Linked DNA regions of Homo sapiens: region 2 is linked to region 1. A link means that fine-mapping ties the variant in region 1 to the expression of a gene that starts in the linked region. Tissue or cell type: neutrophils. Region 1 holds a variant in brackets; the other region holds the start of a gene. All regions are shown on one strand. Distances are from middle to middle.

What was found. PIP is the estimated chance that this variant, and not a neighbour inherited with it, causes the effect.
Region 2: it holds the start of FES, and the variant in region 1 is fine-mapped to the expression of FES in neutrophils (BLUEPRINT, PIP 0.95).

What each region holds. Positions count from the first base shown.
Region 1 is chr15:90,826,766-90,834,971 of GRCh38, forward strand. No RefSeq gene overlaps it. Among named protein-coding and RNA genes, the nearest start is that of FURIN, 38 kb to the right of the region's middle. RefSeq lists an enhancer at 3,325-3,414. The variant TA/T (reference allele first, on the strand shown) is at 3,732.
Region 2 is chr15:90,880,745-90,888,950 of GRCh38, forward strand. FES (FES proto-oncogene, tyrosine kinase) reads left to right here and starts at 3,760. Exons shown (of 19, transcript NM_002005.4): 1 at 3,760-3,800; 2 at 4,293-4,514; 3 at 4,668-4,841; 4 at 6,217-6,313; 5 at 6,443-6,626. The coding sequence starts at 4,302. It overlaps FURIN (furin, paired basic amino acid cleaving enzyme), which reads left to right. Exons shown (of 16, transcript NM_002569.4): 14 at 1-71; 15 at 186-296; 16 at 542-2,713. The coding sequence ends at 1,134. RefSeq lists enhancers at 2,809-2,938, 4,476-4,905 and a silencer at 3,336-3,845.

The sequences.
Region 1 (8,206 bases):
CCGTGAAGGTCTGCGATTTCATTCTTGAAGTCAGTGAGACCAAGAACCCACCAAGTCCGGACACAATGGGACCTGTATGCAGTCTATGGGGCAGTTCAGACCAAAGGGCTGGGCGTGGCACCACAGCTGCCCCGAGCCCTTGGCCTCTCTGAGCTTTTCTCTCTCACCTGAGAAATGGGATTTCAAGGAAAATGAGTAGCGGTAACTTACCCACCTTACTCCACGGTTACTGTGAAGCGCCCAGAAGAGAAGCCATGGATGTGGGCGACGCATTCGAGGTTAGCTTCAGAAGCAGCGGGCGCTGGGTAGCCACATTGACACCCGGTACTAGCGCTTCCTCCTGGGGGTTCCTGGGTCCAAGGGGGTTGTGGCAGTCCTTGCCACAGAGATGCAGAGTCTGCAATGTCCAAATGTGCTTCGTGTGCAGTGGGAGCCTGGCAAGCTGTAACCCTTGTCGTGATTCACGCGTCCCAGGGACACTTGGGGGCCGCTGTGGGCAACCCCCCACACCCCGCTTTTGGTCAGGGCTGTGCCAGCAGAAGGCTGGGGCTGGACAATAGAGGGGATGTTGGGGCCGGGTGGGAGGCGGGAAAGGAGAAGGAGGGAAGTTTAGCAAGGAAAGAGCAGAAACGTCCCAGAGAAATTAAATTTCAGTTTTGTGGTGAACAGCTGGATCCTTTTTCCCATATCCTCACCAAAAAATTCCAATACTATCTTTGTCACCTTGTGTCATGGATCTATTTTGAGCTCTCTCGCGGTTCCTGAGCTCCTGTGTTTAGAGTGCACCAGGCTCTGCCTTCCGGGTTCAAGTCATTTTTTTTTTTGAGATGGAGTCTCGCTCTGTCGTCCCAGGCTGGAGTGCAGTGGCATGATATCGGCTCACTGCAACCTCCGCCTCCCGGGTTCAAGTGATTCTCCTGCCTCAGCCTCTCAAGTAGCTGGGATTACAGGTGCACGCCACCACGCCTGGCTGATTTTTGTATTTTTAGTAGAGGTGGGGGTTTCACTGTGTTGTCCAGGCTGGTCTCAAACTCCTGGCCTCAAATGATCCACCCAGCTAGGCCTCCTAAAGTGCTGGGATTACAGGTGTGAGCCACCGCGCCCGGCCTTGCGATTTTTGTATCTCAGCTCAGCTCTTCACACGAATTCATCCTCACAACCGCAGGGGATTCGGAGGGGTCCAGTAATTTTTCCCTTTTCACAGCCAAAGCAGCTGAATCACCAAGGCCATGAAACGAATGAGGATCTGCCTGATGTTCACCAGGCTGGCCCCTCCAGATCACTGCAAAGTGGGGCAAGATGAGAACAGCGCCAGGGGTTGATGACACCCAGGGCGCCCCAGCAGGACATCCTGGCCCAACTGCCCTCCAGGGTCCCGGTCAGAGGGCCAAGCTTTGCTGCTAGTCATGGCCCAAGTAGCCTGTAGCTTCTTCCCCGGATGGATGTGGGATCCTCCCAGAAAGGCCTGACCCGACCTAATCCCAGTCTCCCCACCTTTTCTGATACTGCTTCCTTACCTGGACCTCTCCACCCGCTGCCCGGCCCACACTCACCACTGGGCTCAGCTCTGCTGGGACACTGCTGCCTGGACCGTGCGTGGATGGGGGCGGGGCGGGGACGAGGGGAGGTGGAGAGGTCACTGCTCCTGGGAGGGCTGGGAGTGGCAGTGAGCCGTTGGTCTGGCCATTCTCCCTCCGTGAGGTTCAAGATCAAAAGTTCCCATGGGAAGGCCACAACCATTTCTTCTGTGAGGCCCGGAAATGATAATGGGTTCCTCATACTAAAAGACTTTCCTGGCCAGGTGCGGCGGCTCGCGCCTATAATCCCAGCACTTGGGGAGGCCGAGGCCGGCGGATCACTAGAGATCAGGAGTTAGAGACCAGCCTGGCCAACATGGTGAAACCTTATCTCTACTAAAAATACAAAATTAGCCGAGCGTGGTGGTACATGCCTGTAGTCCCAGCTACTCGAGAGGCTGAGGCACGCGAATTGCTTGAACCCAGGAAGTGGAGGTTGCAGCAAACCGAGATCATGCCACTGCACTCCAGCCTGGGGGACAGAGTGAACTCTGTCTCAAAAAAAAATATTAAAATTTAGCCTGGTGCAGTGGCTTATGCCTATAATCTCAGCACTTTGGGAGGCCGAGGTGGGCAGATCACGAGGTCAGGGGATCGAGAACATTCTTGCTAACATGGTGAAACCCTTTCTCTACTAAAAATAGAAAAAATTAGCAGGGTGTTGTGGCACATGCCTGTAGTCCCAGCTACTTGGGAAACTGAGGCAGGAGAATCACTTGAACCCAGAAGGTGGAGGTTGCAGTGAGCTGAGATTGCGCCACTGCACTCCAGCCTGGGCGACAGAGCAAGACTCCGTCTTAAAAAAAAAAAAATTAAAATTAAATTTTTAAGACCTTCCTGCTCCCTGAAGTGGGCCACCCTGATCCCAGCCCCCAGGTCTGGAGTCACCATTTCCAGTTCTTCAAACCTGCCTGTTGCCGACATGCTGGGTGACCTTGGGCAAGTCACTTCGCCTCTCTGTGCCTCGAGGCCTCACCAATAGAATGACCCTCACTGGAAGCTGATAATCAAGTCCGCCCACCCACTTGGACATTCCAGGACTGTTCAATTTCAGTGCCATATAGACTTACATAAGCAGGGCTGCATTTCTTTAATTTGAGTAAAATGCAAATGCTCCTGGTGGATGAGTCTGCACTTCTCAACCCCAAGCCTGCTCAGGTGCATCACTTGGGCGGGAGGGAGAGGTCCCACCCAGACCCACGGACCTCTGCTCTTGGGGTGGACAGGCCCTGGAGATTGGCATTTTGCAGAGCCTCCTGAGGAGGGGAGTTCAGACTTTAGAAGGCAGAATGAGGGGCGAACTCCCCAACCCCAATACCTGACCACATGCACAACAATGACAAATTTTTGGGAAAAGAGTGAGCCAACAGGCCAAGGTGGGTGGATCACCTGAGGTCAGGAATCCAAGACCATCCTGGCAAACATGGTGAAACCCCATCTCTACTAAAAATACAAAAATGAGCTGGCTGTGATGGTACGCTTGTGGTCCCAGCTACTCAGGAGGCTGAGGCAGGAGAATTGCTTGCACCCAGGAGGCGGAGGTTGCAGTGAGCCGAGATCTTGCCACTGCACTCCAGTCTGGGTGACAGAGTGAGAAGGGACCTCCAAGGCTATCGTGTTCAGCTGCTGGGGTGAGGAGTAGGGCAGAAGGCTGGGCACAGGATGTTTAGGGGATGACAGGACAGAGAAGACCTGTGGCCCCCAGCAGGGTGGCCTCAGCCGGGGGGACTTTCCCACCCACCTCTGCGCACTCAGGCTACCCAACTGAAAACAATGCAGCCTCAAAACTGCCCTTCTTCGGGGAAGACAGGAAGGTTCCCGTAGCAGAACAAGTAAAACGTCAGGAGTTAGCTAACCGAGCAAGATGAAAAAAACTTGCAACGCCTCCCTACACGCAAGTGCCAGGAAAGGGAAGGAAATCACACAGGGGCACAGCTGAAAGCCAGCAGAGCCAAGGACCTGAGTGGCTTTCTTGGAACTGATAGCTTCGCGCTAGACAAAAGTGAATGAGAATATGAACCAGGTATAAAAAGCACGAGCCGGGTGCAGTGGTGCGCGCCTGTCAGGCCCACCTGCTAGGGGGGCCAAGTGGGAGGATCACTTGAGCCCAGGGGTTTGAGACCAGCCTGGGCAACCTTGTGAAGCCCCATTTCT[TA/T]AAAAAAAAAAAAAAAGTTGAATGAAAAGAGCACAAAGAAGAGATGACAGGCCAGGCACGGTGGCTCACGCCTGTAATCCCAACACTTTGGGAGGCCAAGGCGGACAGATCACCTGAGGCCAGGAGTTTGAGACCATCCTGGCCAACATGGTGAAACCCTGTTTCTACTAAAAATACAAAAATTAGGCGGGTGTGGTGGCGGGCGCCTGTAATCCCAGCTACTCAGGAGGCTGAGGCAGGAGAATGGTGTGAACCCAGGAGGCAGAGGTTGCAGTGAGCCAAGATTGCACCACTGCACTCCAGCCTTGGTGACAGAGCGAGACTCTGTCTCAAAGAAAAGAAAAAAAGGAGAGATGACAAAAAAAATATATATATCAGGAAATGCAAAGAAACTGCAGAGGGGAGGAAACGCATTAACCAAAACAGGACCATGACACATCTAAAAACAGAGTTACAACATAGTACATGCATCTGAAAAGCAAGGGAATAGTGTGGGAGAGAAACTTGAAATAATTGCAGTGAATTTAGAGAAAAAGACAAATTAAAACAATTAGAGAGAAAATGACCATTATGGGTCCCAGACCTTCCAACATCAGGGTGACTGCACTCCCTGAAGTAGATTATCCAACAACTGAAACAAAAAGCTATTTAGAGAAAGTCTTCCTGAAACGAAGAACCAACTCTACAGACTGCGAGGGCATGACTACTCCAGGGAAGCAAATTCACAATGACCAACATAGGAACATACTGGCTGAGTTAGTGAACTTTTTTTTTTTTTTTTTTCAAGACAGAGTTTCGCTCTTGTTGCCAGGCTGGAGTGCAATGGCAAGATCTCAGCTCACCACCACCTCTGCCTCCCCGATTCAAGCGATTCTCCTGCCTCAGCCTCCCGAGTAGCTGGGATTACAAGCATGTGCCACCATGCCCAGCTATTTTTGTATTTTTAGCAGAGACAGGGTTTCTCCATGTTGGTCAGGCAGGTTTCGAACTCCCGACCTCAGGTGATCAGCCCGCCTCGGCCTCCCAAAGTGCTAGGATTACAGGCATGTGCCACTGCGCCCGGCCAAGTTACTGAACTTTAAGGATAAAGAAAAAACTCTTCAGGCACCTGGACAAAATGTCATTAAAGAATGGAATGGAAGGCCGGGTGTGGTGGCTTAAGCCTGTAATCCCAGCACTTTGGGAGGTTGAGGCGGGCAGATCACCTGAGGTCAGGAGTTCAAGACCAGCCTGACCAACATGGAGAAACCCCCTCTCTACTAAAAATGCAAAATTAGCCGGGCGTGGTGGCGCATGCCTGTAATCCTAGCTACTGAGGAGGCTGAGGCAGGAGAATCGCTTGAACCCCAGAGGCAGGGGTTGCCGTGAGCGGAGATCGCGCCATTGCACTCCAGCCTGGGCAAGAAGAGCAAAACTCCATCTCAAAAATAAATAAATACATTAAAAATAAAAATACAAAAATTATCCAGGCGTGGTGGTGCATGCCTGTAATTCCAGCTACTTGGGAGGCTGAGGCAGGAGAATCACTTGAACCCGGGAGGCAGAGGTTGCAGTGAACCAAGATCACACCACTGCACTCCAGGCTGGGCAACAAGAGCAAAACTCTGCTTCAAAAAAAAAAAAAAAAAAAAAGAATGGAATGGAATCTATTTCAATTTCATTATAAGGCTAAATGCTGATAGCCAGGCATGGTGGCTCATGCCTGTAATCCCAACATTTTGAGAGGCCAGGATGGGTGGATCACTTGAGCTCAGGAGTTTGAGACCAGCCTGGACAACATGGCGAAACTCTGTGTACAAAAATACAAAAATTAGCCAGGCATGATGGCCAGTGCCTGTAATCCCAGCTACTGGGGTGGTTGAGTAGGGAGAATCACTTGAATCCGGGAGGCAGAGGTTAGAGTAAGCTGAGATCACACCATTGCACTCCAGCCTGAGCGACAGAGCAAGACCCCATCTCAAAAAAAAAAAAAAAAAAAAGGCGGCCAGACATGGTGGCTCACGCCTATAATTCCAGCACTTTGGGAGGCTGAGGTGGGTGGATTACTGGAGGTCAGGAGTTCAAGACCAGCCTGGCCAACATGGTGAAACCCCATCTCTACTAAAAATACAAAATTAGCTGGGCGTGGTGGCGTGCGCCTGTAATCTCAGCTACTCAGGAGGCTGAAGCAAGAGAATCACTTGAACCCGGGAGGCAGAAGTTGCAGGCAGAAAGAGTGAAACTCCTTCTCAAAAAAGAAAAAAAAAAAGACTAAATACTGGGAGAATTATGGTTTTAAAGTAAAAGTGTTACAAACCTTGACAAAATCTGAGCGTGGTGGCTCACACCTGTAATCCCAGCACTTTGGGAGGCCAAGGCAGGTGGATCACCTGAGGTCAGGAGTTTGAGACCAGACTGAACCTGGGAGGCAGAGGTTGCAGTGAGCTGAGATCACGCCACTGCACTCCAGCCTGGGTGACAGAGCTAGACTCTGTCTCAAAAATAAATAAATAAAATAAAATAAAAATAAAAATAAATAAACCTTGACAAAGTAAAAATATCAGCATCAAAATCAGAGCTGGGGTGGGCAAGAGGAAGAGGGAGGATGTTTGAGGGGAGTGGTCGCCTTTTTTATCGCAAGAAATGACTGATCTTGCTCAAAGTGAAACATCTGAGTTTTTACCCCAAGACTCCAATGTCTTAATTAATTTCATAATCTTTTTTCTTAACCATGAGGAATTCATTATGAAGTAATAGCTCTTGTGGAAAGTAAATATTTATCTAAGATTCAGCAAGTTTTCTGGGTTTTTTTGCCTTTTTTTTTTTTTTTTTTCAGATACAGGGTCTCACTCTGTTGCCCAGATTGGAGTGCAGTGGCACAATCATGGCTCACTGCAGCTCTGAACTTCTGGGCTTAAGTGATCCTTCCGCCTCAGCCTCCTGAGTAGCTAGGATTACAGGCGGCACATGTTCCCACACCCAGCTAGTTTGTCTGTTTGTTTGTTTGTTTGTTTGTTTGTTTCGAGATGGAGTCTGGCTCTGTCACCCAGGCTGGAGTCCAGTGGCACAATCTCGGCTCACCGCAACCTCCGCCTCCCGGGTTCAAGCGATTCTTCTGCTTCAGCCTCCTGAGTAGCTGGGACTACAGGTGCGCACCACCATGCCCAGCTAATTTTTTGTATTTTTAGTGGAGACGGGGTTTCACCATATTGGCCAGGCTGGTCTCGAACTCCCGACCTCGTGATCTGCCTGGCTCGGCCTCCCAAAGTGCCGGGATTACAGGTGTGAACCACCACACGCAGCTGACACCCAGCTAGTTTTTAAAAATTTTTTTGTAGAGACAGGGGTCTCACTATGTTGCCCAGGCTGGTCTCAAGCTCCTGGGATCCTCTCACCTTGTTCTCCCAAAGTGCTGGGATTACAGGTGTGAACCATAGCACCTGATCTGCCTTTTTTTTTTTTTCTGTTAAACTCAAGTAAAATAGAATATATTTAGTTTAAAATAGAACTGGTACGGTGCAATCTAATCTAAAATTGTTTGGACTTACCTTTCTCTGAACTGCAGGGGCAGAAGGAGGGTGATCCCTTTTCTCCCCATGTAAAGGGTCATGACCGGCACCTCTATTACAAAAATCAAGTTAACAAGAGAAAAAAGAACAGGCTTATTACATGCACATGAGACATGCAAAATATGAACTCAAAGAGGGGCCAGAAGGTTGAGGAGAGGAAAAATGGAGAAATGAATAGGCTCAGTGCTCAGACAGTGGTTAGCAAATGACTGGGAGCTGAGTGGGACAAGTTATGGGAAGGTGAGGGCGGAACTGCAAAGGAACAAAAGTTGGATTTGTTTGTTTGTTTGTTCGTTCTGAGACAGAGTTTCACTCTTGTTGCCCAGGCTGGAGTGCAATGGTGCGATCTCGGCTCACTGCAACCTCCGCCTCCCAGGTTCAAGCAATTCTCTTGCCTCAGCCTCCCGAGTAGCTGGAACTACAGGCACGTGCCACCATTCTCGGCTAATTTTTTGTATTTTCAGTAGAGATGGGGTTTCACCATGTTGGCCAGGCTTGTCTCAAACACTCTTTACCTCAGGTGATCCACTCGCCTCGGCCTCCCAAAGTGCTGGGATTACAGGCATGAGCCACTGCGCCCGGCCGAGACAACCACAATTCTTTTATTGTTGTTGTTTTTTGAGATCGGAGTCTCCCTATGTTGCCTGGTCTGGTCTCAAACTCCTGGGCTCAAGTGATCCTCCAGTCTCAACCTCCTAAATAGCTGGGATTATAGGTGCATGCTGCTGTACCTGGTTTTGCAATTCTTTTGGAAAGAAACTTTCTTAGTCAGATAAGGAATTCCAGGAAGAGTCCCTCCCTCCACTCGGGGGTAGGGAGGGTACAAGACAAGGTTAGGCAGCTTTGCAGTCCTCAGCATGTCAGAGCCCCAGTCTGGGGTATCACTTTCTGAGCCCCAACCTTCCTATCCCTCTTCATCTCTCCAA
Region 2 (8,206 bases), 54 kb after region 1:
TTCCTGGGATGAGGATCCCTCTGGCGAGTGGGTCCTAGAGATTGAAAACACCAGCGAAGCCAACAACTATGGTACTGGGGGCACTTGAGGGGTAGGGGTACGAGGTGGAGGGCTGGCAGGATCTCGAGCACTGGGTGTGGTGCCAGCACTGTCTTAACTCTTGCCTCCTCCCCGCTCTGGAACAGGGACGCTGACCAAGTTCACCCTCGTACTCTATGGCACCGCCCCTGAGGGGCTGCCCGTACCTCCAGAAAGCAGTGGCTGCAAGACCCTCACGTCCAGTCAGGCCTGTGTGGGTCAGTAGTGGGTGCTGTTGGGCTTTGGGGGCCTGAGTCTGGGGGTAAGGCGGGTGCCTGTCCTGAAGCCCAGCTCTAACAGAAAAAAGTCTCAAGAGACCTAGGGCCCCTGGGGCTCTTGGGATGACCACAGTCCTGGGGCTGGAGGATCCTGGGGATGTGGTGACTTGGCTTGGGGCTGCTGTGGTCCTGGGGCTACAGTCTGTTTAGCTGACACACACTTGCCCTCTCTCCCACGCCGGCAGTGTGCGAGGAAGGCTTCTCCCTGCACCAGAAGAGCTGTGTCCAGCACTGCCCTCCAGGGTTCGCCCCCCAAGTCCTCGATACGCACTATAGCACCGAGAATGACGTGGAGACCATCCGGGCCAGCGTCTGCGCCCCCTGCCACGCCTCATGTGCCACATGCCAGGGGCCGGCCCTGACAGACTGCCTCAGCTGCCCCAGCCACGCCTCCTTGGACCCTGTGGAGCAGACTTGCTCCCGGCAAAGCCAGAGCAGCCGAGAGTCCCCGCCACAGCAGCAGCCACCTCGGCTGCCCCCGGAGGTGGAGGCGGGGCAACGGCTGCGGGCAGGGCTGCTGCCCTCACACCTGCCTGAGGTGGTGGCCGGCCTCAGCTGCGCCTTCATCGTGCTGGTCTTCGTCACTGTCTTCCTGGTCCTGCAGCTGCGCTCTGGCTTTAGTTTTCGGGGGGTGAAGGTGTACACCATGGACCGTGGCCTCATCTCCTACAAGGGGCTGCCCCCTGAAGCCTGGCAGGAGGAGTGCCCGTCTGACTCAGAAGAGGACGAGGGCCGGGGCGAGAGGACCGCCTTTATCAAAGACCAGAGCGCCCTCTGATGAGCCCACTGCCCACCCCCTCAAGCCAATCCCCTCCTTGGGCACTTTTTAATTCACCAAAGTATTTTTTTATCTTGGGACTGGGTTTGGACCCCAGCTGGGAGGCAAGAGGGGTGGAGACTGCTTCCCATCCTACCCTCGGGCCCACCTGGCCACCTGAGGTGGGCCCAGGACCAGCTGGGGCGTGGGGAGGGCCGTACCCCACCCTCAGCACCCCTTCCATGTGGAGAAAGGAGTGAAACCTTTAGGGCAGCTTGCCCCGGCCCCGGCCCCAGCCAGAGTTCCTGCGGAGTGAAGAGGGGCAGCCCTTGCTTGTTGGGATTCCTGACCCAGGCCGCAGCTCTTGCCCTTCCCTGTCCCTCTAAAGCAATAATGGTCCCATCCAGGCAGTCGGGGGCTGGCCTAGGAGATATCTGAGGGAGGAGGCCACCTCTCCAAGGGCTTCTGCACCCTCCACCCTGTCCCCCAGCTCTGGTGAGTCTTGGCGGCAGCAGCCATCATAGGAAGGGACCAAGGCAAGGCAGGTGCCTCCAGGTGTGCACGTGGCATGTGGCCTGTGGCCTGTGTCCCATGACCCACCCCTGTGCTCCGTGCCTCCACCACCACTGGCCACCAGGCTGGCGCAGCCAAGGCCGAAGCTCTGGCTGAACCCTGTGCTGGTGTCCTGACCACCCTCCCCTCTCTTGCACCCGCCTCTCCCGTCAGGGCCCAAGTCCCTGTTTTCTGAGCCCGGGCTGCCTGGGCTGTTGGCACTCACAGACCTGGAGCCCCTGGGTGGGTGGTGGGGAGGGGCGCTGGCCCAGCCGGCCTCTCTGGCCTCCCACCCGATGCTGCTTTCCCCTGTGGGGATCTCAGGGGCTGTTTGAGGATATATTTTCACTTTGTGATTATTTCACTTTAGATGCTGATGATTTGTTTTTGTATTTTTAATGGGGGTAGCAGCTGGACTACCCACGTTCTCACACCCACCGTCCGCCCTGCTCCTCCCTGGCTGCCCTGGCCCTGAGGTGTGGGGGCTGCAGCATGTTGCTGAGGAGTGAGGAATAGTTGAGCCCCAAGTCCTGAAGAGGCGGGCCAGCCAGGCGGGCTCAAGGAAAGGGGGTCCCAGTGGGAGGGGCAGGCTGACATCTGTGTTTCAAGTGGGGCTCGCCATGCCGGGGGTTCATAGGTCACTGGCTCTCCAAGTGCCAGAGGTGGGCAGGTGGTGGCACTGAGCCCCCCCAACACTGTGCCCTGGTGGAGAAAGCACTGACCTGTCATGCCCCCCTCAAACCTCCTCTTCTGACGTGCCTTTTGCACCCCTCCCATTAGGACAATCAGTCCCCTCCCATCTGGGAGTCCCCTTTTCTTTTCTACCCTAGCCATTCCTGGTACCCAGCCATCTGCCCAGGGGTGCCCCCTCCTCTCCCATCCCCCTGCCCTCGTGGCCAGCCCGGCTGGTTTTGTAAGATGCTGGGTTGGTGCACAGTGATTTTTTTCTTGTAATTTAAACAGGCCCAGCATTGCTGGTTCTATTTAATGGACATGAGATAATGTTAGAGGTTTTAAAGTGATTAAACGTGCAGACTATGCAAACCAGGCCCAGTCTCCAGTGTGGTACCGTTGCTCCTGCATCGCAGCTGAGGATAGGGGGCCAGTTAGGCCTACACAGTGGCCTGCCTGCCTGGATGTGGGCCCAAGTCAGAAGGCCAAAGTCCTCCAAGGGGCGGGAGGATGCGCCAGCCCCTAGTGGAGGAGCTGGTGCCCCTGGGGTGGGGCTGGTGACCCCTGGTCCTCAGGAGCTGAGCACTAAACTCCCAAAGTCCTGGTTTCCAGCAGTGTGAAGAACTGGGCCTATTGTGTCTTCCTGGGCTGAAGTGATCTGGTCGCCACAGGCTATAGGGCTGAGGCCTAAGGTGGAGGGAGGCCTGACTGAATCAAGATGACTTCTTGTGGGGAGCCTGAGTCCCAAATGGAAAACTCCACGCCTGTCCGCTCCCCAACCCCTGCCCCTTGATTTCCCCAGGTCTCCCTTGGGACAGGAAGCCCCTGCCTGGGGGTAGGAGGATGGGGACAAAACCACTAGGATCTGTATCCGAGAAGCAGTCTCTGTTCGGGATATTTACTTGGAAATTTTATTCAAATGGAAGCTGGCGCCTGAGCCTCTCCTTAGGGAATTCCGTGAGGTGGGGAGGGCTGGGACCAGGGTTCCCTCTTTCTCTTCTGCGGTGGCCCTGGCCTGGTGCTAGGACTGCGCGCCTCCCCTCAGTACCCGCGGACACCCTGGGCTTCCCTGGGCCCAGCATCTGCCTGGGGCCTCGCCCTGGGCTCCCCCTCCTGACCCCCACCTTGCGCCCCTTCCCGGTGTTCCCGGGGCGCTGCCGGGCCCTGGGGCCTGCGGGGCGCGGGCGGCTCTTGGCTGGGCCATTCTTTCCCGGCCCCCTCCTCCCTTCCGTTTCCGTGGCCGTGCGGCCGGCTAGAGGCTGCGGCCCAGCGCGGAGCAGGGGGGCTGGCAGGCGTCGGGGCGGTCGGGCCGGTCCCGCCCGCCCCTTCCCCTCCACAGGCCCGCCCCGGGGCCTGGGCCAACTGAAACCGCGGGAGGAGGAAGCGCGGAATCAGGAACTGGCCGGGGTCCGCACCGGGCCTGAGTCGGTCCGAGGCCGTCCCAGGAGCAGCTGCCCGTGCGGGTACCTCTAGCCCCGGGGCCTGGAGGAGCGGTGGGAGCTGGGGGCGCGGCAGGCAGGGGCAGAGCAGGCGTTCCGAGGGCCAGAGACCCACCCAGGTGGGGGTAGGGGCCGCGGAAGGGCGGGGATGGCCGCAGGGGCAGGGCTCAGGCTGTGGGCGCCTGAGGCTTCAGCTGGGGCAGGCTTGGCCTGTCGAGGACCTGGGCAAGGGTGTCCCTGTAAGGGGTGGTGGGTGGAAGGGCCTGGGGAGGGAGGCTCCAGGTTGGCTCCTGTTCCCGAACGTGCGGAGGAGACCCTGACGCTAAGGAAGCAATGAGGGCCAGTCCCCAGGCCAGGCTGCTGCTGGGTACCCATGGCTGCGTGTGAGCGAGGCAGGACCCCACCTCCTCCCCGTCTGCAGTCCATCCTGACCCTACAGTCCCCAGTCTCCTCGTCCCATGCCTCCGTCTCCAGCTGCTGCCTTGCCTCCAGGGATGGCCCCTTTTCTGTCCCCAGAACAGCACTATGGGCTTCTCTTCCGAGCTGTGCAGCCCCCAGGGCCACGGGGTCCTGCAGCAAATGCAGGAGGCCGAGCTTCGTCTACTGGAGGGCATGAGAAAGTGGATGGCCCAGCGGGTCAAGAGTGACAGGGAGTATGCAGGACTGCTTCACCACATGTCCCTGCAGGACAGTGGGGGCCAGAGCCGGGCCATCAGCCCTGACAGCCCCATCAGTCAGGTGGGTCTCTATGGGACTCTGGTGGGTGCTGGCTGTATCTGCCTTCTCCTTCCTCTCCTGGGGGCCCTCTGGGGCAGTGGCTGGAGATCTGGCAGGCCAATGCTTGGGAGCCATTGTGCCCCCCTCCCTGCCTCCCCCATCTGTGCTGTATAGTCCTGGGCTGAGATCACCAGCCAAACTGAGGGCCTGAGCCGCTTGCTGCGGCAGCACGCAGAGGATCTGAACTCAGGGCCCCTGAGCAAGCTGAGCCTGCTCATCCGGGAACGGCAGCAGCTTCGCAAGACCTACAGCGAGCAGTGGCAGCAGCTGCAGCAGGAGCTCACCAAGGTGAGCGGGCAGCACTGGGGCTTCGGTCATTTCTGTCTAAATTTTGAGCCTCGAAGGGGTTGTTTTGCACAAGAGGCCCTGGATTCACTGGGGAAGTGTAAGTCCCTGACCGCAGGCCTGGCTTGCTCTAACCTTGATGCAGCTTCCTCTCTTCCTTCCCCTACGTTGAGCTGGCTTGCAGCAAGGCCTCTCTGTGCTTTTTCTGTGCCTGGGCAAAGTGCTGGGAGTGTAAGGATGAGTGACCGGTCACGTGCCTGGGAGAAGCTCAGAATCGGTACTCGCCTCCACACTGTGCCATCTGGCTCTGGGTTCTGAGAGTCAGGGAGAGGAATGAGGGTCAGTCTGTTTGCCTTCGACCTAGGCAGCCTCCTCTCAGGGCCCCAGAGACTGGGCAGCAGCATGGCCCCCCGAAGGTCGAGGATTCGGGCCGTGAAGTCAGCCTGCCTAGGTTTGAATCCCACCCAGCTCCTCAGTCTAGAGGCTGTGTGATTTGGAACTATTTATCTGGGAGCCTAGTGCCCCCATTCAGTGTGCTGGTCACCCTCCCTGCACCACACCCCTTCCTCAAGTGCAGAGCCCAGCCTTGCCATGGACCCACAGCGGCCCCTGGTGGCCACCCTGGCCCCATTCCTCGCCCCAAAAGATCATCTGATTCAAGGGTGGGCCCATTTTTATAAAGTTTTGCTGGAACACAGCTATGCCCTTTTGTTTTCATATTGTCTGTGACTACAATGACAGAGTTGAGTAATTGTGACAGAGGCTCTATGGCCTACAAGCGTAAAATATTTATTTACTATCTGGCCCTTTAAGAAAAAGACTGATCTAGTCGAGGAATCTAGCTCAGTTACAGATGGGGAAACTGAGGTTGGGCGCTTGCCCAACATATCCCAGCACATAAACAGGAGAACTGGGACGAGAACACTGATCTCGGGCTGTCATCTATTCCTACTGCCAAGAACATAATTTGCAGGACCCAGTGCAAAGTGAAATTGTGGGGGTCTTTGTTAAAAGATTGCTAGGAATTTCCAGGTGGCAATAATGGAGAATGAAACCAAGCACAGGGCCCTTCTACATGTGGAGCCCCGTGTGACTGCACAGGCCGTGCACACCTGCAACTGGCCCTGCCTGCCACCAGGCTACCACTGTCAGTCCAAGGAGGGACCATTGTAGCCTGTAGTCTACCTCTTTGCCTCCCCAAGGGGTCTGTCTTTAACAGGCTCTCTGATCTTTGACTCTCACGTCAGCAGCCAGCTTTCCCAGAAGTCTCCAGGTGCTCCTTGCCTGACGACAGGACCTTTCCAGGGCTTCACCCCAGGCAAGAATCTTCCACAACTGGGGACCTGCTGCCCCACACTGGCCTCTCCTCTCTCCCTAGACCCACAGCCAGGACATTGAGAAGCTGAAGAGCCAGTACCGAGCTCTGGCACGGGACAGTGCCCAAGCCAAGCGCAAGTACCAGGAGGCCAGCAAAGGTTCGTGGCTTCCCTTGCTGGCAGGGAGGGAATCCGAAGCCAGTGCTGACCTGTCCTTGGGTACCCAGAGAGTGGGGGCTGCCTGGGCCTCCATGCTGTCATCTATACCCCTTGCCCCCCTTCTGGCAGACAAGGACCGTGACAAGGCTAAGGACAAGTATGTGCGCAGCCTGTGGAAGCTCTTTGCTCACCACAACCGCTATGTGCTGGGCGTGCGGGCTGCGCAGCTACACCACCAGCACCACCACCAGCTCCTGCTGCCCGGCCTGCTGCGGTCACTGCAGGACCTGCACGAGGAGATGGCTTGCATCCTGTAAGCCCGCAGCCCCGTCCCCTGGCCCCCACCCTTGAGCAGCCCTAAGCCCAGCCATCAGGCCCAGAGGCAGGACCCAGAAAATCCATTGCTGGGAAGGTGCTGGCCATGTAACCACATGAGAACGGGACCTGGGCCAAGGATTGGAAACAGGCAACTTACCTCTGAATTACACTATTCCAGGGTCTCATTATTCCAGGGTTTTATTACATTCATTGAGCACTGTTCTGGGCTCTGGATTATACCAGAGAACGATGGTAGACAAAAACATCTGTCCTCAGGGATCTTTCGTGTTAGTGGAGTGAGGATGTGAGGAGCACTAAGAGCCATGGAGAAAAATAAAGCAAGAGAAGTGGATCGGGACCTGGGAGCACGGAGGCAAGGGAGGAGGTGACAGTTGTCCATAGAGTGATCTGGGAAAGCCTCTTGAGAGGTGACATTCAAAGAGGCCCCTGAGAGGGGTACGGGAGTGAATCATGGGGCTATTTGGAGAAAGACCATTCCAGAAAGGAGGACAGCAATTACACAGGCCTTGAGGTAGGAGAGTACCAGGGACTAATAGCCAGGAACCAGTGGTGCCTCTGAGAGTGAGGGAGGGGGAGAGTCATACACGAGGCTGGAGGAGGCAGGCGTCAAGGGCTACTGGGTGATAGAGGGTCTAGCAGGGCCATGGTGAGGACTTTGGCTCTGGGTGAACAAGAATGGCATGATCTGACCTCTGTTTTTTTGTTTCATTTTGTTTTAACTTTTTTTGAGTCAGAGTCTCGCTCTGCCGCCCAGGCTAGAGTGCAGTGGCATGATCTCGGCTTACTGCAACCTCCGCCTCCCAGGTTCAAGTGATTCCCCTGCCTCAGCCTCCCGAGTAGCTGGAACTACGGGCATGCGCCACCACACCCAGCTAATTTTTGTATTTTTAGTAGAGATGGGGTTTCACCATGTTGCCCAGGCTAGTCTCTAATTCCTGGGCTCAAAGCGATTTGCCTGCCTCTGCCTCCCAAAGTGCCGGGATTACAGGCATGAGCCACCATGCCCAGCCCTGACCTCTGTTTTAATAAGGCCACTCTGGCTGCTGTGCTGCAAATAGACTTCAGGGAGCAAGGACAGAAGCTGGGAGGCCAGAGAGCAGGCTCTTGCCATAATCCAGATCCAAGCTTTTGGCCACTAGGACGGGGAGGTAGCAATGGAGGTGAGGCGCGGTCAGGTCCTGGAAGGTGAAGCCAGTGGGATTTCCCTATGGATTGGAAGTGGGGCGTGAAATAGAGGAGTCAGGGGTCACTCTGGGGATTTGGCCTGGAGCAGCTGGAAGATGGAGTGGCTGTTAACTTATGTAGGGAAGGCTGTGGGAAGAAGAGGTTTAGGAGACAAGGATAGCAGTTCATTTATTTATTTATTTATTTATTTATTTATTTATTTATTTATTTATTTAGAGATGTAGTCTCATTCTTTCGCCAGGCTGGAGTGCAGTGGCGCGATCTTGGCTCACTGCAACCTCCACCTCCCAGGCTCAAGCGATTCTCTTGCCTCAGCCTCCCGAGTAGCCAAGTAGCTGGGACTACAGGCATGTGCCACCATGCCTGGCT